Regions from separate parts of the Homo sapiens genome. Here regions 1, 3 and 4 are each linked to region 2. The links come from fine-mapping of genetic effects on gene expression. A gene starts in region 2. Each other region holds a variant in brackets. All regions are shown on one strand. Distances are between the middles of the regions.

Region 1 (6,174 bases), 49 kb after region 2:
TTTCACTCTTGTTGCCCAGGCTGGAGTGCAGTGGCACGATCTCAGCTCACCGCAATCTCCGCCTCCCAGGTTCAAGTGATTGTCCTGCCTCAGCCTCCTGAGTAGCTGGGATTACAGGCGTGTGCCACCATGCCCGGCTAATTTTGTATTTTTTTTTTTTTTTTTTTTTTTTTTTTTTAGTAGAGACAGGGTTTCTACATGTTGGTCAGGCTGGTCTCGAACTTCCGACCTCAGGTGATCCACCCGCCTTGACCTCCCAAAGTGCTGGGATTGCAGGCGTGAGCCACTGCGCCTGGCGATAGCTCCCTTTTTTTAGTGCTAAGTCATATGCCATTGTCCATTCATTTACTGAAGGACATCTTGGTTGCTCCCAAATTTTGGCAATTAAGAGTAAAACTGCTATAAACACATGTATGCAGGTTTTTGTGTGGACGTAAGTTTTTAACTCAGTTGGGTAAATACCAAGGAATGCAATAGTTAGATCATATGAATTACATCACTGGTTTTTTTGTGTGTGTATTAGTAATTTAGGTGCATTATAAGCAGTATTTAATTATCTATGGGTCTTCACGAATTTTTTTTTTTGAGACAGAGTGTTGCTCTGTCACCCAGGCTGGAGTGCAGTGGCACAATCTCAGCTCACTGCAACCTCCGCCTCCTGTGTTCAAGCGATTCTCCTGCCTCAGCCTCCTGAGTAGCTGGGATTACAGGTGTGCACCACCACACCCAGCTAATTTTTGTATTTTTAGTAGAGATGGGGTTTCACCATGTTGGCCAGGCTGGTCTTGAACTCCTGACCTCAAGTGATCCACCCGCCTCGGCCTCCCAAAGTGCTGGGATTACAAGCGTGAGCCACCGTGCCCAGCCAATAATTTTTATCCATTCAGATTTTTTTTTGTTTTTAGTAGAGATGGGGTCTTACTATGTTGCTCACTCTGGTCTCAAAGTCCTGGGCTCAAGCAGTCCTCCCGCCTTGGTCTCCCCAAGTGCTGGGATTACAGGTGCGAACCACCATGCCGAGCTACCAAACAAATGTTTTAAGATGCATAAAAGATTGCAAAATTATCTGATGGTGCATCACAAGTACAAATATGTCAGAAAAGTCTGAATACCTGCTTCAACCACAATACTGTTCAGTCACGTCTTTCTGCCAGCCTATTATTTAAAGAATCTATTCATGCGCCTATTATTTTTTTCTTTTAAAAAATTTTTTCTCCAGTGCCACTTGCCAACATCCACCTATTATTCTAAAAGTAAAATATTTACTAAAGCCTTTCTTTTTGTAGTTTTTTTTTTACTATTTTTGTAGATGGCTATAATCAACCATGATGACTATGATTCAACCATGAATCAACCATTTTTGTCCTTGTCTCTGGATTTTTGAGATTTTTGTTACAATAAGGAATTCTGTGGATTTCTCTTACAGTGAATTCTACGAACCCAATGCCCTCATGATGGAAGAAGAAGGAGCCATAATTGCTGGTCTGTTGGTGGGTCTGAATGTCATTGATGCCAATTTCTGTATGAAAGGAGAAGACTTGGACTCTCAGGTATGGGAAAGAGACTCATTCCCATGGGTGTCACTCTGAGTTCTGCTATCTCAGAAGTGGATTTGATTAGGTTATACCAACCAAATTAGGCCATATTCTATGAGTCATAAACAGGATTTCCTTCCATTTTGATGGGAATATAAAAAAAAGATTGTTTTTCCTTCCAGTTTGGCTCATTTATACGTTACGAATGTTTTTTAGATTCTTGTCTTGGCTGTACTCTCTGTTAAACATACATATACACACACACACATACACATTTACATACACATACATACACACACAAACACAGGTATACCCAGAGATATTGCAGGTTTGGTTTCAGATCACAACAATAAAGCAAATATCATAATAAAGCAAGTCACATGCATTTTTTGGTTTCCCAGTACATGTAAAAGTTTGTTTATACTAGGCCAGGTGCGATTGTTCACACCTGTAATCCCTGCACTTTGGGGCAGGAGTATCACTTGAACCCAGAAGTTTGAGACCAGCCTGGGCAACATAGTGAGACCCCGTCTCTACAAAAAATAAAAAATTAGCTGGTTGTGTAGCTACTTGGGAGGCTGAGGCAGGAGGATCACTTAAGCTTGGGAAGTCGAGGCTATAGTTAGCCATAATTGTGCATTCCAGCCTGGGTGACAGTGAGACCCTGTCTCAAAATAAAACTCTAAAAAAAATTTTTTAAATAAAAAGTTTGTTTGCATTATACTGTAGTCTATTAAGTATGTGATAGTGTAAGTGTAAAAAATAATGTACATACCTTAACTTAAAAATACTTTATTGCTAAAAAAATGCTAACAATCACCTGAGCCTTCAGTGAGTTGTAATCTTTTTGCTGGTAGAGGGTCTTACCTCAGTGTTAATGGCTGCTGACTGATCTTGGCAGTTGCTGAAAGTTGAGGTGGCTGTGGCAATTTCTTAAAATAAGACAACAATGAAGTTTACCACATTAATTGGCTTCCTTTACAAAAGATTTCTCTGTAGCATACCACGCTGTTTGACAGCATTTTACCCACAGTAGAATTTCTTTCAAAATTGGAGTCAGTCCTCTCAAATCTTGCTGCTGCTTTATCAACTAAGTTTATGTAATACTCTAGTAAACCATGCTGTAAACAGATGTGCTGTCTTTGTTGTACCCTTTATTTTTGTTTTGTTTTTGTTTTTGTTTTTTGTTTTTTAGAGACAGAGTCTTAATGTGTCTCCCAGGCTGGAATGCAGTGGCACCATCTCAGCTCACTGCAACCTCCGCCTCCTGGGCTCAAGCAATCCTCATGCCTCATCCTCCTGAGTAGCTGGACTACAGGCATGCACCACCACACCTAGCTAATTTTTTTATTTATAGTAGAGATGGGGTTTTGCCATATTGCCCAGGCTGATCTCAAACTCATGGCCTCAAGTGATCTGCCTGCCTTGGCTTCCCAAAGTGCTGGGATTACAGGCATGAACCACCATGCCCAGCCCACTATTCCATTTATAAAGCATAGGCAGAGTAGATTTAGCATCATTCTTAAGGGCCCTAGGATTTTCAGAATGGTAAATGAGCACTGGCTTCAACTTAGAGTCACCAGCTGTATTAGCCTCTAACAAGAGAGTCAGTCTGTCCTTTGCAGCTTTGAAGCCAGGCATTGACTTCTCATCTATAGCTATGAAAGTCCTAGATGGCATTGTCTAATAGAAGGCTGTTTTGACTACAGTGAAAATCTGTTGTTGAGTGTATCCACCTTCATCAATTATCTTAATTAGATCTTCTGGATAACTTGCTACAGCTTCTATTATTTACATCAGTGCTTGCTGCTTC[A/G]ACTTGTACTTTTATGTTATGGAGACACTTTCCTTAAACCTCGTAAACCAGTGGCTGCTAACTTCAGGCTTTTCCTCTGCAGCTTTTTTACCTCTCAATCTCCATAGAATTCAAGAGCATTAGGGCCTTGCTCTGAATTAGGTGTTGGCTTAAGGGAATGTTGTGGCTGGTTTGATCTTCTATACAGACCACTCAAACTTTATTCCTGTCAGCAATAAGGCTGTTTTGCTTTCTTGTCATTCATTTGTTCATGAGTAGCACTTAATTCCCTTCAAGCACTTCTCCTTTGCTTTCACAACCTGGCTGTTTGGCCCAAAAAGCCTACCTTTTGGCCTGTCTTCTCTTTCGACATGCCTTCTTCACTGAGCTTAATTTTTTCTGGCTTTTGATTTAAAATAAGAAATGTGCAATTCTTCCTTTCACTTGAACACTTAGTGGCCATTGCAGGGTTATTAATTGGCCTAATTTCAGTATTGTTGTGTCTTAGGGAATAGGGAGGCCAAGGAGAAGGGAGAGAGATGGGGGAACGGCCAGTAAGTAGAGCAGTGAGAACATACACATTTATGGATTGCTTGCCATCTTATATGGGCGTAGTTCATGGAGCCCCAAAATAATTTTGATAGTAACATCAAAGATCACTGATTACAGGTTATCATAGCAGATGTAATAATAAAGAAAAAGTTTAAAGTACTGTGAGAGTTACCAAAATGTGAAACCGAGACATGAAGCGAGCACATGCTGTTGGAAAAATGGCACTAATATACTTGCATGACGCAGGGTTGCCACAAACCTTCAATTTGTAAAAAATGCAATATCTGTGAAGCAAAGTGCAATAAAATGAGGTATGTGTGTGTGTGCGTGTGTGTGTATACTAAAATATATGCAGTTGACTCTTGAACAACAGAGTAAGGCATTCCACATGGTAGAAACATCCCACATAGAAAATTCACCTAAAACTTTTCATTCCCTAAAAACGTTAAGTACTAATAGCATACGATTAACCAGAGGCCTTACTAGTAACATAAACAGTCAATTAACACATATTTTGTATATTATAAATAGTTATATTTATATTTATTTTATTTTATTTTTGAGACAAAGTCTCACTGTCATCCAGGCCGGAGTGCCGTGGAGTGAACTCAGCTCAGTGCAACCTCTGCCTCCCAGGCTTAATTGATCCTTCCACTTCAGCCTTCAGAGTAGCTGGGACTATAGGAACATGCTACCACACCCAGCTAATTTTTTTGTTTTGTGGAGACAGAGTTTCGCTATGTTGCCTAAGCTGGTCTTGAACTCCTGAGCTCAAGTGATCCTCCTGCCTCGGCCTCCCAAAGTGCTGGGATTACAGGCATGAGCCATGGCGCCTGGCCTATTGTATATTTCATATGCTGTATTCTTACAATAAAGTAAGCTAGAGACAAGAAAATATTATAGGAAAATTATAAAGATGAGAAAATATATTTACTATTCATTTAAATGAATGGATTATCATAAAGGAACCAGATCATCATAAAGGTCTTCACACTAACCAGATTGATGAGGAGGAGGAGGAAGAGGAGGCGGTTGGTCTTGCTGTCTCAGGAGTGGCAGAGATGGAGGAAAACCTTTTTTTTTTCTGCCTGGATGACAGAGTGAGACTTTGTCTCAGAAATAAAATAATATAATATAAATATATATTTTATATTGTGTATATATATAGTATATAGGTGGACTCGCACAATTCAAAGTCGTGTTGTTCAAGAATCAACTGTACAGTTGTCCTTCAGTGTCCAAAGGAGATTATTTCCAGCACCTCCATGAATACCAACACTCACAATGCTCAAGCCCTTACAGTCAGCCCTCTGCGTCCTTGGATTTTAGGACTTGCTGAGAATGAGAGCGAACTGTACTAAAGGCCATTAAAGCACGGTAGTTAAGAGTAAAGGCTCTGAAGCTAACTGCCTAGGTTTGGATTCTGGCTTCCTCATTTTCTAGCTGAATATATTTTATAATTACTTAGTTTCTTGTTGTTTCAGATTTCTTGATGTAATGCAGTTAGAACAGGGCCTAGTACACATTAATTGCCCAATAAATAATGTTTTCACTTTAATTACTTCTCACCCTTTCTGTATGAAATACTATGACAAACTTCTGTTATGTTTTATTCTGGTAAAATAGGAAGGGAAGTAAGATTTTTTGGTGTGGATTTTTTTTTTATTTTTTTATTTTTATTTTTTTTGAGACGGAGTTTTGCTCTTGTTGCCCAGGCTGGAGTGCAATGGTGAGATCCTGGCTTACCGCAACCTCCACCTCCTGGATTCAAGCAATTCTCCTGCCTCAGCCTCCCGAGTAGCTGGGATTACAGGCATGTGCCACCACACCCAGCTAATTTTTGTATTTTTAGTAGAGACAGGGTTTCTCCATGTTGTTCAGTCTGGTCTCGAACTCCTGACCTCAGGTGATCCACCCGCTTCGGCCTCCCAAAGTGCTGGGATTATAGGCAAGAGCCACTGCGCCCGGCCTTTGGTGTGGATTTTTAAAAAGAAATAAGCTAAATAATAAAATGGCAATCTTGAAAAATGAAGACGTGTACATCAATGAAAGTTTGGAGGAACAGACACCAAAATATTAGCAATGGTCATCTTCAGTGGTTGGGATTATGAGTGTTTAATATTACTTCCCCTTTTTTTTAGCTGTATTTTCTGAAACTTCTACAGGGGAAATGTGCTAATTTTTAAAAAGTTATTTCTAAAAATGAACAGGGATTCAGTAGCAGAATACCCGAAATAAGCAAAAGAGAAAGAAACTTTAGACCTTATTTATATTAAGTATTCTGTTGACTGTGTT
Region 2 (6,174 bases):
AAGCAGCTAGAACGTAGTATTTTTTGGATCTTCATTTTGGATTTGAACTTCACACAGGCCTATTCTTTTAGGGCCACAGACTGAACTCCCACCCGCCTCACAACCATCTTACAAATAGGTGCCATTACTCACAAATGGGATCAAATGAGAAAATAGTTCAATACAGCTCATACAGTAATTACTCTGTATGTGAGAAAAAAAATCAAGGTTTGAATATCTTACTGATGGCTTAACTTTAACTTCATATTCAAAGCTAAGATGTTTACTTAGTAAAGACCAAAATGTAAAAACGGTACTAAGCAATATCTAAAATCTTTTTTTTTTTTCTTTGAGACGGAGTTTCACAGGCTGGAGTGCAGTGGTGCAATCTCACCTCACTGCAACCCCCGCCTCCCAGGTTCAAGCGATTCTCCTGCCTCAGCCTCCAGAGTAGCAGATTACAGGCATGTGCCACCACGCCCAGCTAATTTTGTATTTTTAGTAAAGATGGCGTTTCTCCATGTTGGTCAGGCTGGTCTTGAACTCCCGACTTCAGGTGACCCGCCTGCCTCAGCCTCCCACAGTACTGGGATGACAGGCATGAGCCACCGTGCCCGGCCGTAGAATTGTTTTTATAAGTTTCTACAAATAGCACTGTTTTCATAGTAACTTCTTTGCCTGTGAACAATGGATAACTGTTCGTGCTGAAGACTCAATGGTGTTTACCTAAAGAACAGCGTAGAAGTACAGTTTTTCTTGCCCACCCCCGGGTCTTATTTCTGAAATGGCTGCCAACACCTCAAACTGGTAGATCTGGGAAATTCAAGGATACCAATACAGGCATGTTTTTCTTTCCTTGCCAAAAACTTTAGTTGTTTTGGGCTTGCCTCTCTGTGTCCTCTACCTGGAGAGAGGCAGGGTGGGATGGATCTTCCGAAGGAATGTTAATCAAGTTTCTTGCTCACTAACCTTGATGTTCCTGTTGTGTTGGTATGTTGCAATCAATCTAGATCTGTTCAAGTTAGTAAATGCTTACTGGGGTGAAGAGATTGTTGTGGTTTGTGACAAGGCCAAATTCAGGTTTTGGACCCCAGACAATCACATGGCATTCGGATTTATTCATGTATTCCTTGTTCTGTTTTAAGAACATATCAGTGATCTAGAGTTTTGATATCACACATACAGATAGCTAGGGCTGTTTGGAGTTGTGGTTCCAGGAATGTCCCATGTAATTTGAAGGTTTTAATGACTACTTACTATGTTTTGAAGTATTGCATGATATAAAGTGAATCTATAAACTGTCCCCTTATTAATATATAATATGGGAATATTTTTGGCTAGAAAGGAATTGAACTGAATTAAATGAGAATGTGTTAAATGAAGGCTTGTGTTCAGTATTTGGATATGAAAATTCTGTTTCCTGGAAAAGGTGTTTCTGTCTTACTGCTGCGTGCCTAGTGCCTGGATCACTACCTGGCATGTGGAGCACCTCTTAGTGAATATCTGTTGAATGAATGAATGAATGAATGGCTCTGAGTCTAGATGTAGGGTAATGATGAGAGAGAATGAGATAGAAATAAAACCAGGAGTATTTTGCTTTCCTTAGTAACTTACTGATTTTCCCCAATTATAAATAAGCCTATATATATGCCTTCTTACATTGTACCAGTATACCCTCCTTCTTTTTTTTATTTTGAGACAGGGTAGAGTGCAGTGGTATGATCTCGGCTCACTGCAGCCTCTGCCTCCTGGCCTCACGTGATTCTTCCACCTCAGTCTCCCAAGTAGCTAGGACCACATGTGCGCGCAACCATACCTTGCTAATTTTTGTTTTTGTAGAGATGGAGTTTTGCCATGTTGCCCAGGCTGGTTTCAAACTCCTGAGCTCAAGCCATTCACCTGCCTCAGCCTCCCAAAGTGCTGGGATTACAGGCACATGCCACCACATCTGACTAATTTTTGTATTTTTAGTAGAGATGAGGTTTCACCATGTTGGCCAGGCTGGTCTCGAACTCCTGACCTCAGGTGATTTGCCCGCCTTGGCCTCCCAAAGTGCTGGTATTATAGGCATGAGCCACCGCGCCCAGCCATCCGCCCTGTCTTCGTAACAATATGAAAATGCCAGTTTCTCTACAGAATTTGATTATTAGCATTTTTTTCTTTCAGTTCAGTCTCAAATTATGATGAAGCATTTGAGATTTTAACAATATTCAAGGAGAATTTTTTTAGTTTTCAGAAATTAGGTAAATCAAGATGTCCCTCTGATAACAATCCCTAGAAAGGAATAGTCTCAGGTCATATTTCTTGAATTTGTATGTTCCTCCTTAAAATTGGAACCCTTCAATACAAAAACAAACAAACACTTTCTTTCAATTGTCCAAAACATTTTCAAAGAAAATTCTTATTCTTCTCTTTGTAATTTATGTAGTTCATAAAGCAAGTACCTGCCCTTTTGCTACCAAGGTATAAATGCCTCATTGGATAATATAGGGCCGTGTGTGTGTGTGTGTGTGTGTGTGTGTGTGTGTGTGTGTGTGTGTATTAAGAAAATATAATTGTCTTCAGTATCTTATCGAATGGGAGGATTTTAAAAATATAACATGGTTTAATCTGCTTAGAAACATATTTCATGCTTAAGGCTGGGCATGGTGGCTCACGCCTGTAATCCCAGCACTTTGGGAGGCTGAGGTGGGAGGATCATGAGGTCAGAAGTTCAAGACCAGCCTGGCCAAGATGGTGAAACCCCGTCTCTACTAAAAATACAAAAATTAGCTGGGCGTGGTGGTGGGTGCCTGTAATCCCAGCTACTCGGGAGGCTGAGGCAGAGAATTGCTTGGACCTGGGAGCTGAGATCACGCCACTGCACTCCAGCCTGGGCTACAGAGCAAGACTCTGTCTCAAAAAAGAAAAAAGAAAAAAAAAGAAACGTATTTTATGCTTAATACAGAAACTTGATAAATACAACAAAATCAAAAAGGGGGGAAATTGCCATTAATTGGGAAAGATTTTACTTTTTTAACTTGAAGTTTTTTTTTTGCATTTCTGCCTAACCTAAAAGGTCAGGTTTTTGTACCTTGGAGAAGGAAATTATAAATGCCCAAGAATAAGATATTTAAATTGAAAATCTACTTTAGCTTTTCTTTTTATCTTTTTGTTTTTTTTCCCTCTGAGAACCTCAATTTTTTATGCTTTAGCTTTTCTTAAAACATAACATTTAGCATAGTAAAGAATTTTAATAGCTATGTAGATAAGAATGAAAGAGGTGAATTATATGCTTGTTAAATTAATCTAACTGCCTCTTTTACCATCTTTACTATAGATTATTATCCGGTATTAATTGTCATCCTTTTATTCAGTCCTTGATCCCAAAGTAAGAAGAATTGATGAGGATATGTGCATTGTGTTATGTCTGATCACAGTTTGACTAGCACAGTCTGGAAGTGGGTTGTACAGGATGAGAGAGAGAAGCCTAATTGCTCTCCCAGCATCAGCAGCATCTATAAAGCATCCTGGGAATTGCTTGCCCTACGTTCAGAGCAGCTGGTCACATGAGCCTGAATTTTCAGTTCAGTTCATTAGTCAGCCATTTTGGTCAACACCCTGCTTACTGCGCACGGCCAATCCTATGAGAACTCAGCATCCCAGCTCATCTGAGCAGATCCTGGAAGTGATTTCTGCAGCTCAGGATTTTTTTTTTAAGCTACATTGAAAATATAGGTTTATTTTTTGTTCAGGTTTTTCTTTTATATTTTTTTTCTGCACAAAGGAGGAGGATTTTTCACTTACTCATATCGAGGCCAGATTTTTAAAGCCAGCTAAGGCAGCATCAGCTGTGCGGGATTTAAAGCCTATAGCTCAGCTGAAAAAAAAGGTGGGGGGCAGGGAAGGGAAGATAAAAGGAGAGGAAGCTGGGAGAAGACAAGCATCATCTTATTTTGCTATGTGGTAGGAACTGTCTATAAGATAGTGTAGAATTGTTTATCTTGAGCAGTTTGTTCTTAACCTATAAGGTATTTTTCCTTTTTTTTTTTTTTAAACCTCCCCCACCCTTTTCCTGAAAGCTTTGTTTCAGAGCTTTGTATTGGGTTTTTTTGGTGAGGAGGTTGTATTTATTTTTTTGGTGTGTGTGTGTGAGTGTGTGTGTGTCTGTGTGTGTGTTGTGGTCCCAGCTGAGTCATCATGTCTGCTCTGACGCCTCCGACCGATATGCCAACCCCCACCACTGACAAGATCACACAGGCTGCCATGGAGACCATCTACCTTTGCAAATTCCGAGTGTCCATGGATGGAGAATGGCTCTGCCTGCGAGAGCTGGATGACATCTCACTTACACCTGACCCAGAGCCTACCCATGAAGGTATGGTCAGATCCTGTCCGCTAGTATTTCACCAGCATCCTCATTGTTATGGGGGAGGGCTGGGAGGATCAGGGAGAGGTAGAAAGAACCTACACTCTCAACTGTTAACAGTCCTGAAAACCTTGCATCCTTACTTACCACCCAGCTCCCCTTCTCTTGCTCATGGGGGAAAGATAATTTTTTTTCTTGCCCCTTTAGGTATCCTTTCAAAAGATGCTGGATACTCGTTTAGAGTTCTTTGTCTTTAAGCCTCTAAATAAAACATTTGAGGTCACTTATCACATCTGATTCTATTCAATAATGAGAAAGCTATTAATTTTGTTCATATATGAAAATGTTATAGAAATTGTAGTGATTTATAACACTAAGTTAAGACAACATGACTATAATTATAGGATTGTACATGATGAATACAGTAGAAACACCAGGGTATTTGGTAATGGTATCCTCACCATTATATGAGGATACAATTTTAAGCAAGTTATGACATCTAGGAAATGTTTGATAAAACATTTTTTTAACAATATGGATTATTAGGTTAGATGAGAAAATAACTTTTCAGCATTTATTTATTGAATATGGACTCCTAAGAAAGCATAATGCCTGGAAAGGTTAAATATGATTAATATGGCATCCCTATAGATTACAATAGAATGGTAATATTGGAATCTATTGGCCATTGCTTTTTATAAATTATTTGTGGTAACTATTATGATCCATTTGAGATTTCCACTGTCAGTACCTCTGAGATCTTTGTGGTCTCTTGACTTGCGACTTTTTTCCAGGACTCTTGCTAATTTATGAGAGGTTTTCTGCTTCTACCCTTTAATTCTCTTAATACCACAGAAAGAGAGCTGATTTGAATCATAGCTACAAATCGTTTTGTTTTTAATACAGTTGCTTCTTAGCTAAGGTTTATTCTCTGTCCTTATACTGATGAAAAAAAACAAAAAACGCTTGCATATGAGGAGAAATTCTTTATAAACATCTGCCTGATAGTTAGGCACATCGACAGGACAAAGAAGACCATAGGTGAATTGTACCTAGCAGATGGGGTTAGGAAAGGTGATTCTCTGCCTTTGACCTTGAGTTGAAATCTTATCATGACTCAGAATTTTCCCATTGTGTTTGATAAGCATTTTATCTTCCCAGTCAGCCTTAGCCTTGAGAAAGTTTTAGGGATGGTTAATAACACAGAACACAAAGCAGTCATTTTGGGTGTGTCTTTAAGAACAATGTTTAAGTGGTTTTTAAGACCCTTTGCATCTTTTAACAATTGGTTTGTTAATTAGACAGCTTTCTTTGGCTGTATGTTTCGTTATGTGCACAAGTTATAAGACATCAGCTGAAATTCCATGCAATGCCAGTACTATTTATTTTTTATTATTATTTTATTCTATATTTTCATCAAAACATCGTTACATCCAACAATTCCAGTACTACTTAAAACAGCCTCCAAAGCTTTAAAAGTCTTTAGGGAAGAAAAATACAGTTTTAGAAGGCTACCAAGAAGTCTTCTGGCAACTGCCTCAGTTTACATATTTTGTTTGAAAAAAATGTATTCCCGTCCAATTTGAGAGTTATACAATATGAAATATTCCCTTTATCATGAAATCTAGTTTACCAGTGTCTCAAAAATAATTTTTAACAATTTTAACACCTCAAATATATGTTTTTGGAGCAGGATTCCTATGGATAAGCAAAAGTGAGCTGTTTGGTTCATGTAAGCGTTTTTAGCAGCGCCATTTGAATTCTTCATAGAGAAATCTGTAGCAACACATTTCTCAGTATGGAAAATGTGTGAGAGCTATAATCTAAGTAATAAATTGTATGTCTGC
Region 3 (6,174 bases), 150 kb after region 2:
GCTCACACCTGCAATCCTAGCACTTTGGGAGGCTGAGGCAGGCAGATCACTTGACGTCAGGAGTTTGAGACCAGCCTGGCAATATGGTGAAACCCCACCTCTATTAAAAAAAAAAAAAACTACAAAAGTTAATCTGGCATGGTGGTGTGTGCCTGTAATCCCAGCTACTTGGGAGGCTAAGGTGGGAGAATTGTTTGAACCTGGGAGATGAAGGTTGCAGTGTGCCCAGATCGTGCCATTGCACTCCAGCTTGGGCAGCAGAGCCAGACTCTGTCTCAAAAACAACAACAAAATGCCTTTATAGACTGTAGTCTAGCCTGGGAACTATATCAGTGAACAAATGACTATAAGGTGATAAGTATTGTGTTGAGGATATTTACAAAGAGCTATCAATACTAACAGGAAACAATCACTGCCTCAGCTGTGCCTGGATGTGCTAGTTTTTTGTTTGCTTGTTTGTTTTGTTTTGTGTTTTTTGAGACGGAGTCTCGCTCTGTTGCCCAGGCTGGAGTGCAGTGGCGCAATCGCCGCTCATTGCAACCTTCGCCTCCCGAGTTCAAGCAATTCTCCTGCCTCAGCCTCCTGTGTAGCTGAGATTACAGGTGCATGCCAACGCACTCGGCTAATTTCTGTATTTTTAGTAGAGACGGGGTTTCTCCATGTTGGTCAGGCTGGTCTTAAACTCCTGACCTTGTGATCTCTGCCCCCCTCAGTCTCCCAAAGTGTGCTGGGATTACAGGCATGAGCCACCGTGCCTGGCTTTTTTTTTTTTTTTTTTTGGTGTGTGTGTGTGTGTGTGTGTGTGTGTGTGTGTGTGTGTGTGTGTGAGACAGAGTTTCACTCTTGTTGCCCAGGCTGGAGGGCAACGGCATGATCTCGACTCACTGCAACCTCTACATTCCGGGTTCAAGAGATTCTCCTGCCTCAGCCTCCCACATAGCTGGGACTACTGGCACGCAACACCACTCCTGGCTTTTTTCTTTTCATAGAGATGGGATTTCACCAAGTAGCCCAGGCTGGTTTCAAATTCCCGGACTTAAGCGATCCACCTGCCTAGGCCTCCCAAAATGCTGAGATTACAGGCATGAGCCACTGTTCCTGACCGATGGGCTAATTTTGAATGTGTGAAATATTAAATCAAAATCTCTAGTGGGCAACATTTAGTTGGTTCATTTTAATATTATGTAATGTGCTTGAACTAATAAAAAAGTAAACTTTAAAAATTATTTTTGTTTTTGTTTGGAAATCATCACAATAAAATAAATTTTTTTTTATTTTGTTTGGAAATGGAAATTCCAGAATAATTTCAGTAATAGGTAAACTCTATAAAGCATTCAGAGGTTTGTGTAATTACTAATGTAGCTAGAGCAGTTTCTCAGTTCATCTGACAACTAGTCCAGGCACAGTGGCTCACGCCTGTAATCCCAGCATTTTGGGAGGCTGAGGTAGGTGGACTGCTTGAGGTCAGGAGTTTGAGACCAGCCTGGGCAACATGGGGAAACACTGTCTCTACCAAAAATATAAAAAACTAGCCGAATGTGGTGGCGCAGCTGCTTGGGAGGCTGAGGTGGGAGGATAACTTGAGACTGGGAGGCAGAAGTTCCAGTGAGCTGAGATTACAACACTGCACTCCAGCCTGGGCAACAGAGAAAGACCCTGTCTCAAAACAAAACAAACAAACAATACTGATAACTATTATGGTCCTCATTTTTACTTATGGTCACCTAGTCATAGCAGATATTTATAATTACTATCCATACCATAGACCCTTTGCCCTTAGCAAGCACCTCATCTGGTCATGGTTCCTTGACTGGTGGGGTATCCCAAATCTTCATTTCTGAAGGGTCTGGATCATTAGCAGTCCCCTCTGAATTGGGTTGTTAGGGTTTCTCCCTTGACTTTAATCACAGGACATGGGATATTAACAGCACTCCAGGGATCACCCACATTCCAGACATACTTTTCCTTATCCCCATTGTGTAGAAGCAACCCAGTTTTCCCCTGGTGATCAGAACCAATCACTCTAGGTAGTCAGAACAGTTACCTTCTATTTTGTCTGTTGATTCATTGGCATGATGAGCCCAAAGTGACCATGTGGCAGTCTCAACTTTCAGTTTAGTGGAACAATTGCTATGTCCTCTAGTGGAAGCATCCTACTTTGGGAACTAAGTCCTCCAAGCTAGCAGATCTCAAATTCTCAGGGATAGGAGGCAAAAAAAGTTTCCTAGTAGATCATTAAGAATAATAATGAAAGGAGCCATGTCCAAACTCACCACCACCTTAATTCCCAGACCCATGAATCCTGGCTGTAGAAGAAAGAGCACCATCTATGTTATTTTCTTTTCCTTTTATTTATTTATTTATTTATTTATTATTAATTTTTTTTTTTTTTTTTTAGAAACAGGGTTTTGCTATGTTGCCTAGGCTGGTCTCAAACTCCTAGCCACAAGTGATCCTCCCACCTTGGCCTCTCAAAGTGTTGGGATTACAGGCATGAACCACTGCATCTGACCTATGTTATTTTCTGATTTAGAGCATATACTACATCCTGGAGGACATTGTCTAGGCCTCACAATGTATGCCATATGACACTTAGCTGGTGCCATAAATGAGTCTTCAAAAAGCCATTCCACCTTTCCATCAGGCCAGTGGCTTTAGGATGAGGGTGACAGGGTAAGACTGGTGAATTTTATTAATATAAGCATAGTTCCATTGCTGTATTTCATTTCTATGCAAAAACTTCCTAGGCTGGGTACGGTGGCTCACACCTGTAATCCCAGCACTTTGGGAGGCCAAGGTGGGCAGATCACTTGAGGTCAGGAGTTCGAGACTAGCCTGGCCAACATGGTGAAACCCTGTCTCTACTAAAAATACAAAAAATTAGCCAGGCATGGTGATGTGTGCCTGTAATCCCAGCTACTCGGGAGGCTGAGGCAGGAGAATCACTTGAACCTGGGAGGTGGAGGTTGCAGTGAGCCAAGATGCCGCCACTGCATTGCAGCCTAGGTGACAGAGTAAGACTGTGTCTCAAAACAAAAAACAAAACAAACAAACAAAAAGACTTCCTGCATCAGAAGTGATGCTATATGGAATACCATGATTGTGGATAAGTCACTCCGTAAATTTGTGGATGGTGGTTTTGGCATAACCTCTACGTGCAGGGAGAGAAAATCCCTATAAAGAGTATCTGTTCCAGTGAGAACAAAGTGCTGCCCCTTCCGTGATGGGGGTGGTCCAACGTAATAAATCTGTCCCCTAGAGAATCATTCTAAATAGGGGGCTTAGTTGTGATTTGCTCTAGCAACAAAAAATTGGAATTCACAAACACAAGCTGGAATCCACCTGTTGTTCAGTCTCACAACCTCCGACTGTGATGATGTGGGTATCCTGCAGAAGCTGGCACCCCTCGTTATGAGGCTAAACATGAACCTGGCCCAGGAGGCAGAGAAGCTGAAGTGGGCAGTGGGGAGCTACAGCAGCTTCTGTCCCACATCAAGGAGATAAGCCAGCAGATAAATAACACATGTGTAATGTGCAACGACACTTGGTGCCTCTGCACTGATCTCTTTTTTTTTTTTTTTTTTTGAGTCAGTGTCACTCTGTCGCC[G/A]AGGCTGGAGTGCAGTGGCGCCATCTTGGCTCACTGCAACCTCTGCTTTCCAAGTTCAAGCTATTCTAGGGCCTCTGCCTCCTGAATAGCTGTGATTACTAGGCGTCCACCACCATGCCTGGCTAATTTTTGTATTTTAGTAGAGACAGGGTTTCACCGTGTTGGTCAGATTGGTCTCGAACTCCTGACCTCAAGTGATCTGTCCTCCTCGGCCTCCCAAAGTGCTGGGATTACAGATGTGAGCCACTGTGCCCAGCCTGCACTGACCTTCTGAGAGTGAAGACAATATGTTGCTGCTCCCTTTCTGCTTTCCACATCTCATGCAAAATGTCTCTGTGGCCCACTTTGAGAATGTACAGGGAAGATAATTCTGGGAAATGTAGTTCAGCCTAGCCAAGTAGGCACATTACAAAGCCACTACAGAAGGTGATAAGTGCTATAGTGAAAAAAATAATAGAGCGAGGAAAGGCAGATAAGAACTGGGAAAAGGGGTGAATTTCAATTTGTAACAGTAGGGTAGGCATCAATAAGAAGGTAGTATTGAACAAAACTTTCAAGGAAATGAGGAAATAGCCTTGCAGATATCTGGGAGAAGAGCATTCCTATTACAGAGAAAAATCTTTGCTCCAAGTTCTGCATTCATAAAAAAGGAAAAGTAACAATACCTATCTCAACATCATAGCGTTGTTATGAAGATAAAATGAATTACTACCTGCAAAGGACTTAGAATAATGCCTAGAATTTTAAAAATTGAGGATGGACATGGTTGCTCATGCCTGTAATCCCAGCACTTTGGGAGTCCTAGGCAGGAAGATCACTTGAGGCCAGGAGTTTGAGATCAGCCTGGGCAACACAGTGAGACCCCCATCTCTACAAAAAAATACAAAAATTAGGCCGGGCGTGGTGGCTCACTGCACTCAGCACTTTGGGAGGCCAAGGCGGGTGGATCATGAGGTCAGGAGTTCGAGACCAGCCTGACCAACATGATGAAACCCCGTCTCTACTAAAAATATTAAAATTAGCTGGGCGTGGTGATATGCACCTGTAATCCCAGCTACTCAGGAGGCTGAGGCAGGAGAATCACTTGAACCCGGGAGGTGGAGGTTGCAGTCAGCTGAGATCGTGCCATTGCACTCCAGCCCGGGTGACGAAGTGAGACTCTGTCTCAAAAAAAAAAAAATTAGCTGGGAGTGGTGGTACATACCTGTAGTCGCAGCTACTCCGGAGGCTGAGGAGGATTCACTTGAGCTCAGAAGTTTGAAGCTGCAGTGAGCTATGATCACACCACTGCACTCTAGCCTGGGCAACAGAACAAGACTGTCTCTAAAAAAAAATAATAATAGGCCAGGCATGGTGGCTTATGCCTATAATCCCAGCACTTTAGGAGGCCAAGGCGGGTGGATCATGAGGTCAGGAGTTCAAGACCAGCCACGCCAACATGGTGAAACCCTGTCTCTAAAATATAAAAAATTAGCTGGGCGTGGTGGTGCATGCCTGTAGTCCTAGCTACTTGGGAGGTGGAGGCAGGGGAATCATTTGAACCCGGGAGGCAGAGGTTGCAGTGAGTCGAGATCGCGCCACTGCACTCCAGCCTGGCGACAGAGCGAGACTTTGTCTCAAAATAATAATAATAATAATAATAATATATAAAATACTATTATTTTTGGTGTATTGAATACCATATGATTTCTAAAACCCTTACTATAATAGTTCAGATATGAATCCAGGAAAATGATTGTGTATCATATTATCATCATCTCATTCCCACCAGATACAAACTAGCCAATGATTCTGCAATATCACTCAATTTTACTGGGTTAGTGAACCTTAGATTTCCAAAGTGAACTATACATTTCTTTAGCTGTAATTTCTGTTTAATTTAAATGTTTATTTTCATATTTCATAATGATTTAAATGTTTATTTTTGTATTATGAGTTAAAACATAGTTTAATATACTCTTATAGTCAATGTTTATTATTAAGATTACTAGGTATTACCTTGTTCCAGTGGTCAATTTTAGCATCACTGTTAGTGGGATGAGATAGTATGTGTTTCCTAATGTGATGCGAGATAAAATGTACACTATCATTCATTGTATTCTAGCCAAAAATCTTTAACTTGAATCTATGAAAACATTTACACTGAATTTCCAGTTTACAGGAAATACAAAGTTCAAATAATAAGCTAAATGAATTCATGAAGAAAGTATCAGACCAATTCAGACTATGGTGTTTTCTACATTGATCTCTTTAGCAAGTCAGTGTCGTGGGAAAAAAGAAGGGGACAAGTCCAGATTTAAAGAGCATATCAATACCACTTCTTCACTATTTCAAAGTGATCTTTGGCCACTTATTCTTACTCAGAACAAGAGAGCAGCTGTAGAGAGCTACAGAGAGCAGTTCTGTGTGAACACCTACATCAGCACCATCTCACCTGGGCACCACACTACAGCATTGCACTGTTTGCTAGCACTTCTCAACTCTTGTGTCCTGCCCAGAGTTTTCCTGAGACAACGAGGCTTGAGATGCTTTTGCTTGCTGGGTGCCCTTGCATTTGTAACTCAGAA
Region 4 (6,144 bases), 65 kb before region 2:
CTAAATCAGATAGATCATAATCAGTATTGTGTTAATTTGGACCCTGCAGAATTGCAAGATGAGATTAGTGGGTGCAAGAGATTTATTAGGAAAACATCTGTGAGGGATAATGGGAAGGGAGCCGAAGAAGGCTGAGTCTTCGGATCCTGATGCAGGTCTTACCCATGTGGAGCAAAGAGGATAGGAAGGATGATTGGACAGATAATGTCTGGAGGTGCAGTGCTAAGAAATTTTCAGCAAAGATAAAAAGGAGTCCCCAAGTCAGTGCCCCATCAGAAGAGTCCTGTGTCTCCCGGGAACTGACCTGTCTTAGTGTCCCTTGCACAAACACAGTGGATCTCAGAACTATAGGTCAATTACATTCTTTGCAGAGAACTGAGAGGCTCCTTTCATGGCCACCACATCTTACATTGATTCCTTAGTGTGCCCCTCTAAATGTTCCACTAATACCAGCAAATGTTTGAATACAACTTAAAGAAAGGCTTTAATCTATCCTCAATAACTCTCATTTAAGAGTCACCAGCTACTCCAGATTTATATTGAATGAGTTAATATATATAAAGCACTTACATTGGTACCTAGCACATAGTAAGTACTAAATTGTTACTAGTATGGTAGTATCAGAGTTTAACTGAACTTCTGAAAGAAGGAAGACTTGTGGGACTACGAATTGCAGTCTTCTTCCAGCTAGCATTTAATGAGGTAATAATGCTGGAATAGGGGTCTTTCCTATAAGGATCTGCAATGTGGATCTACAAAACTTCTTCTACTGGGTACACCGAGAAACTAAGGCAAAGATGAGGAGAAAGTAAGCGGTCTCTTCAGAAGCAGTCTCTCATGAATTCTCATAGCACTTTGGAAGCTATTTCTTTGCCTTCAGCAGGCTCTGCCAAATAATAATTATTTATGTGTATGTCTTATCTCTTCAACTAAGCTACACTCATGTTCATTCATTCAACAAATATGTATTGAGTACTTCCATGTGCCAGACACTGTTCCAGATGGTGAGGAAACATCAATGGGCAAAAGTGCGTGCCTTCGTGGAGATTACACTCTAGTGAGGGGAGACAGACCATAAACATGACACGTAAGTAAATTACCTAGTCTGCTAGAGGGAGATAAGTACTTGGGGGGAAGTAGACTAAGATAAAGAAATGGGGTTTGAGATATTTAAAAAGTAGTCAGGGTGGTTCTCACAGAGAAGATGACACCTAGGCACAGTTCTGGGGAGCGAGCAGTGATAGTGACTTTCTCAAGGGCGCTCACCATAACTTCACCACCACAGACCAATCCTGTGCATTTGGTTAATATTTAATAAATGTTTACTGACTAAATGAGATTCAAAGACTTGGCTAAAACCACACTCTAGATTAAAGATCAGTCAAGAATGGATGTATCTTTAATACACCAAAACTGGGGTTTCTACTGAAGCACCAGTGTCCTATGCATATCCCTAAAGAAACACTGAATAATCCGTGGAAGTCATTAAAGATGACTATTACCAGAACAATTCCTTTTCAAGAAACCAACTCTTACTAATCATCTTCCCACTGTTTTAAATTCAGAGTTAGCATTTACTTTCCATGGTACCTTTAAATATATATGTCAATTGGCCTTGGCTTTCTGCCATAAAGTTTTATGTGCCATGATAAACATGGTATTTATCAGGGGGGATTTTGCCCTTTTATTTAATTATGGGTATAAAATGGCAAAGCCACCTCAAATATGTACATGTATTAGTTCTGTGATTAATGCTTCATTACATCATACTTACAAACCATTCATCAATAACAAGTTAACTTACGTAAAGAAAGTTAACATAAGGAAACTTTTTTCCAACAAATTATTTCACACAGGTATATGCTTATGAATCTATTTAATTGCTCAGACTGTGCTAGAGAATACGTACCATGAAATACATATATTTCATAAGGTTCAGTTACAAAATGGATTGTTTCAAATGGCAATTTCTTACACTAACCTGATTATGAAAAAAAGAAGTCTGTATCATCTGCTTCCAAGTCTGTTATGTCCAAATATATTTTAATTATGCATTTATTTTGCTACTTTTATAAATATTAGAGATTTCACCTTAAATTATTTTTGTAACTAGTTCTAGAACATGTTTTCCAATTATTATTTTTCTAATGGAGACATATAATTGACCTATGTTTATGCATATATGTTCTCTACACAGTGAAACTTTTTTTAAAAAGAATAGTAAAGAAAATGCGGAAGCTCTGGCTCTCCAAGGCAAAGTCAAAAAAAAAAAAAAAAGCGGGGGGGAATGCGAGGAACATTTTATTACACCTCCTGATTTTCAGTCCTTGAGTTTTATTTTCTCCCCTTGTTTATTTGTTTAATGCTAGAAACTGTATTCCTAAGAGAGCATACCTCTTTCAGGTGAGCATGATAATTGGAAGATTTTGATACTTAGAGTATGAACATATAATTAAGAAGTGATTACCTAATAAAGATAACAATGTGACTATTTTAATTATTTTGGTGGCAGGGAGTTGGTTTTACATCACCCAAAAAAAAAAAAAAGCCCTGGTTTCAAATTCATTGGTAATAAATATGCTAACTTTCTGAATCAAAATGGAGAGCCTCTCAAGAAAAAGAGCTATGCAGTCAGCAATGACTTAAATTAGTCAGGATAGCAGGCATCTGGGGTTAAGGCTGTTTCCACCATTTTGGTCTCACCACCATATACGAGTGGGACCACAGCTGTGTAGCACTTGTTTCTGTCATAAGTGTAGCAGGTCTCTGTAGCACTGTCTTCATCACAGATATTGCTCTGGGTAGCAGTAACTATCTGATTATCCAGCTCCACTTCTGTAGGATCACATTTTTTACAGCTGAAAAGCAAATATATGTATTAGACAATCCCCTCAAATGCTGTCTCAAAATGTGACTACACATTTCAATCCAAAATCAATTAGTTCTTGCAGCTCTGACATGACAGCAAGGGATGACTCCTTTCAGACATAAGCAGCTCTACAATACAGAATAGCTTATGGGATTTTCCAATCTTTAATATATATTAGTTGAAAGTAAGCAATATAATTAATGATATGATAATATGATTGTTTTATCTACACCATACAGCAATTTCTACTGTGTTAGGCTTATTCCCAACTGTATATCTGTCTAAACAAGTTATTTATAGTGACAAGAAAGGGAGAATTTTTAAAAAAATTGATGTTGGAGTCTGTCATTTCCAAAGAAACACCTGCCTTTTTATAAGATCAAATCCACTTATTGAACTATTAAGAGAAATTGGCCTTTCTATGAATGCCAATGATTTTTTCTTTAGAAAAAATGTATAGCTAAATTTTATCTGTGACAAAGTTTTATGAATTTATGATACCTAATAATTAACATAGGAATTAATGTATTCAAAAGTTCAGATTATGTTTGTAAATGTTTATACTCCAACATATTTTTAAAAACATTCTTACTAACAAGGTTAAAATTAAAAGCTATTAACTTCCACATCTATATTACTATGGAAAAAAATATATCTTACAGGTCAGACAAATGGTACACAAATCTGGTTCTCAATGGTGAGGTGGGATCAGAGATATTCTCCCTGTTGTTCAGAGGAACACTAAAAGAAAAGAAAGAAAACAAAGTTAAAACAATGAAATGCAGATATTGTTATTTTTGGTAATGAGTATACGGCCACTATTTCATCAGAACAGTACTTATTGTATTTAGTACTCTATAAGCACTCTAGAGTAATACCGTTACTCAGATTTTTATAGTAACTTGCTATATTTTAAATATTTCTCATTCAAAATAAACCTCACAAC[A/T]ACTCCGCTGTCAACTATCTTTGCTGACTTGGCAAATTTTTGCTTTTCCTTTAAAACTCAACTCACGTTTTACCTCTGTAATAATTATATTGATGTTATCCCCACCCTTCAACAAACTTCTTCCTCTGCAGTCTCATTAATGCTCATATATATTTATTATATCAAATGCCGTATCATAGTTGCTTGTCTACAGAGTGGTTGCTTCCCTGGGCTATGTAAGTTCCTTGAGGCAAAAACATTTATGTATTCCCAGTGCCTAGCTAGGTATGTGGCATATGGAATATGTTCAATATATGTGAAATGGACAGACAGATATTATTATCCAGATTTTAGAGGAGAGGAAATCATAAATAGGAGAGGTTAGTGATCCACCCAAGTTCACACAACAATTAAGTAGCAAAGCTGGAACTTTTTCATCGTGATGTCCCATGAAAAATTAGATGATTGTCAACGAGTTCAGGTGATTTCATTAACTTTAACATTTTTTTCATCTAAGTCATCATTCCTTCTCATGTGCAGCCCTCCCTACCAAAAGGAACAACAAAAACCTTGTGTTTCCTAACTCAGTATTTATAAATACCATCCAAGCCAAAAACCTGGCTATCATACCTGAATCCTCCCCTGTCACATATCTAATCAATCTCACAGTCCAGTTGATTCTAATTATTTTCATGTGTGAAATCCATCCACTTGCCTCTCTTCTCATTATTACTGCCTTAATTCAGGACACCACTATCCTCTCCTAGATTGTAACAATGTCTTCCTTTTGTCTTGACCCCTTCAAACCACTGGCCACATTATTGCCAAACATCCTTTCTAAAAATGCAAGCTTAATTTCCTTCTCTGCTTAAAACCTCTAGTGTCTCTCCACAGATAACAGGGTATCCTCAAATAGCATAGAAGGCACGTATCCTAATATGCCCCTAACTCTCCAGCTTCATCTCTCACAATGTCACCATCTACAATGCATGCCAGCTGTAAACAATCACTTGCAATTCCACAAACGTACCATGCTTTTCTCATCTCCCATCTTAACAATAACAGTTCTAACATATAATACTGGTTACAGTGTGCCTGGTACTATGCTAAGCATATTACGTGATGATCTCATATAATCGTCACAGCAATCCTGTTTCCTTTTCCTGGAATGACCTGCCCCACCTATTAATTCTCTCACTCCCCACACACATTTAGCCAGCAAACTCCTATTGAGCTAACAGCCATCATCCATCCCACCACTTATTCCAAGCACCCTTTCCTGCCTCCCACTGCCACCCTTCTCCTCTCCCCCAGGATTGGACTGGGTGCCCCTCCTCAGTACTCCTATAACAACCCATGCCCATTCCTATCATAGCACTTACAATACAGAATTGTAATTGCCGTTTTAATTGTTTACGGTTTCCTGTTAGACTATAAATTCTTTTAAGAAATGGACTATATTTTAAATAAACTGTTTTATCCCCACCACCAACCCTTAATATTTGGCAGTTACTAAATAAACATTCGTTGAATGAATGAATGAAACTATTCTTAATAAGACTGTAAAGACTCTAGTAATATCAGAAAAAGGAGAGGCTACTATAAGCCAAACACTGTTCTTTTATGAATTATTGTATTTAATCCTCACAACCCTATAAAGTATATGTGTATAAATTCATACATGCATAATTATCCCTTTTTTTAAAGTTTAGGAAAAAGGCTAGTTAAGTAACTTGCCCAAAGTCACATCATTTTAGTAAGTAATGGAGTTGGGAATAATACCATAATGGCAGGCTCGGCATGGTGGCTCACGCCTGTAATCCCAGCACTTTGGGAGGCTGAGGCAGGTGGATTGCTTGAGGTCAGGAGTTCAAGCCCAGCTTGGCCAACATGATGAAACCTTGTCTCTACTAAAAATACAAAAATTAGCCAGGCGATGAGGAGTGCATATGTAGTTCCAGCTACTAGGGAGACTGAGGCAGAAGAATTGCTTGAACCTGGGAGGCAGAGGTTGCAGTGAGCCAAGATCATGCTACTGCACTCCAGCCTGGGCAACAGAGTGAGACTCTGTCTCAAAAAAAAAAAAAAAAAAAAAAAAAAAAAAAGCCAGGCACGGTGGCTCATGCCTGCAGTCTCAGCACTTTGGGAGGCCAAGGTGGGCAGATCACCTGAGGTCAAGTGTTCGAGACTAGCCTGGCCAACATGGTGAAACCTCATCTCTACTAAAAATACAAAAAAAAACTAGCTGGGCATGGTGGTGCGTGCCTGTAGTCCCAGCTACTCGGGGAGGCTGAGGCAGGAGAATTGTTTGAACCCAGGAGGCAGAGGTTGCAGTAAGCCAAGATCGCAC

Which allele goes with the higher level. Positions count from the first base shown, and alleles are read on the strand shown. Sizes are in standard deviations (SD) of each study's normalised expression. Not every link is listed here.
With allele G in place of A in region 3, the expression in B cells of the gene that starts at base 3,549 in region 2 is higher (large effect, 0.79 SD a copy in Fairfax 2012).

The links. PIP is the estimated chance that this variant, and not a neighbour inherited with it, causes the effect.
Region 1: its variant is the best candidate, but not a certain one, in a credible set for the expression of RUFY3 in whole blood (TOPMed, PIP 0.52).
Region 3: its variant is the best candidate, but not a certain one, in a credible set for the expression of RUFY3 in B cells (Fairfax 2012, PIP 0.65).
Region 4: its variant is the best candidate, but not a certain one, in a credible set for the expression of RUFY3 in whole blood (Lepik 2017, PIP 0.64).

Annotation. Positions count from the first base shown.
Region 1 is chr4:70,767,112-70,773,285 of GRCh38, forward strand. It overlaps RUFY3 (RUN and FYVE domain containing 3), which reads left to right. Exons shown (of 18, transcript NM_001037442.4): 5 at 1,427-1,550. Among named protein-coding and RNA genes, the nearest start is that of RUFY3, 48 kb to the left of the region's middle. The variant A/G (reference allele first, on the strand shown) is at 3,349.
Region 2 is chr4:70,718,416-70,724,589 of GRCh38, forward strand. It overlaps RUFY3 (RUN and FYVE domain containing 3), which reads left to right and starts at 3,549. Exons shown (of 18, transcript NM_001037442.4): 1 at 3,549-4,336. The coding sequence starts at 4,159.
Region 3 is chr4:70,867,012-70,873,185 of GRCh38, forward strand. No RefSeq gene overlaps it. Among named protein-coding and RNA genes, the nearest start is that of GRSF1, 30 kb to the left of the region's middle. The variant G/A (reference allele first, on the strand shown) is at 3,608.
Region 4 is chr4:70,653,682-70,659,825 of GRCh38, forward strand. It overlaps JCHAIN (joining chain of multimeric IgA and IgM), which reads right to left. Exons shown (of 4, transcript NM_144646.4): 3 at 3,530-3,610; 4 at 1,860-2,858. The coding sequence ends at 2,648. Among named protein-coding and RNA genes, the nearest start is that of JCHAIN, 9.8 kb to the right of the region's middle. The variant A/T (reference allele first, on the strand shown) is at 3,816.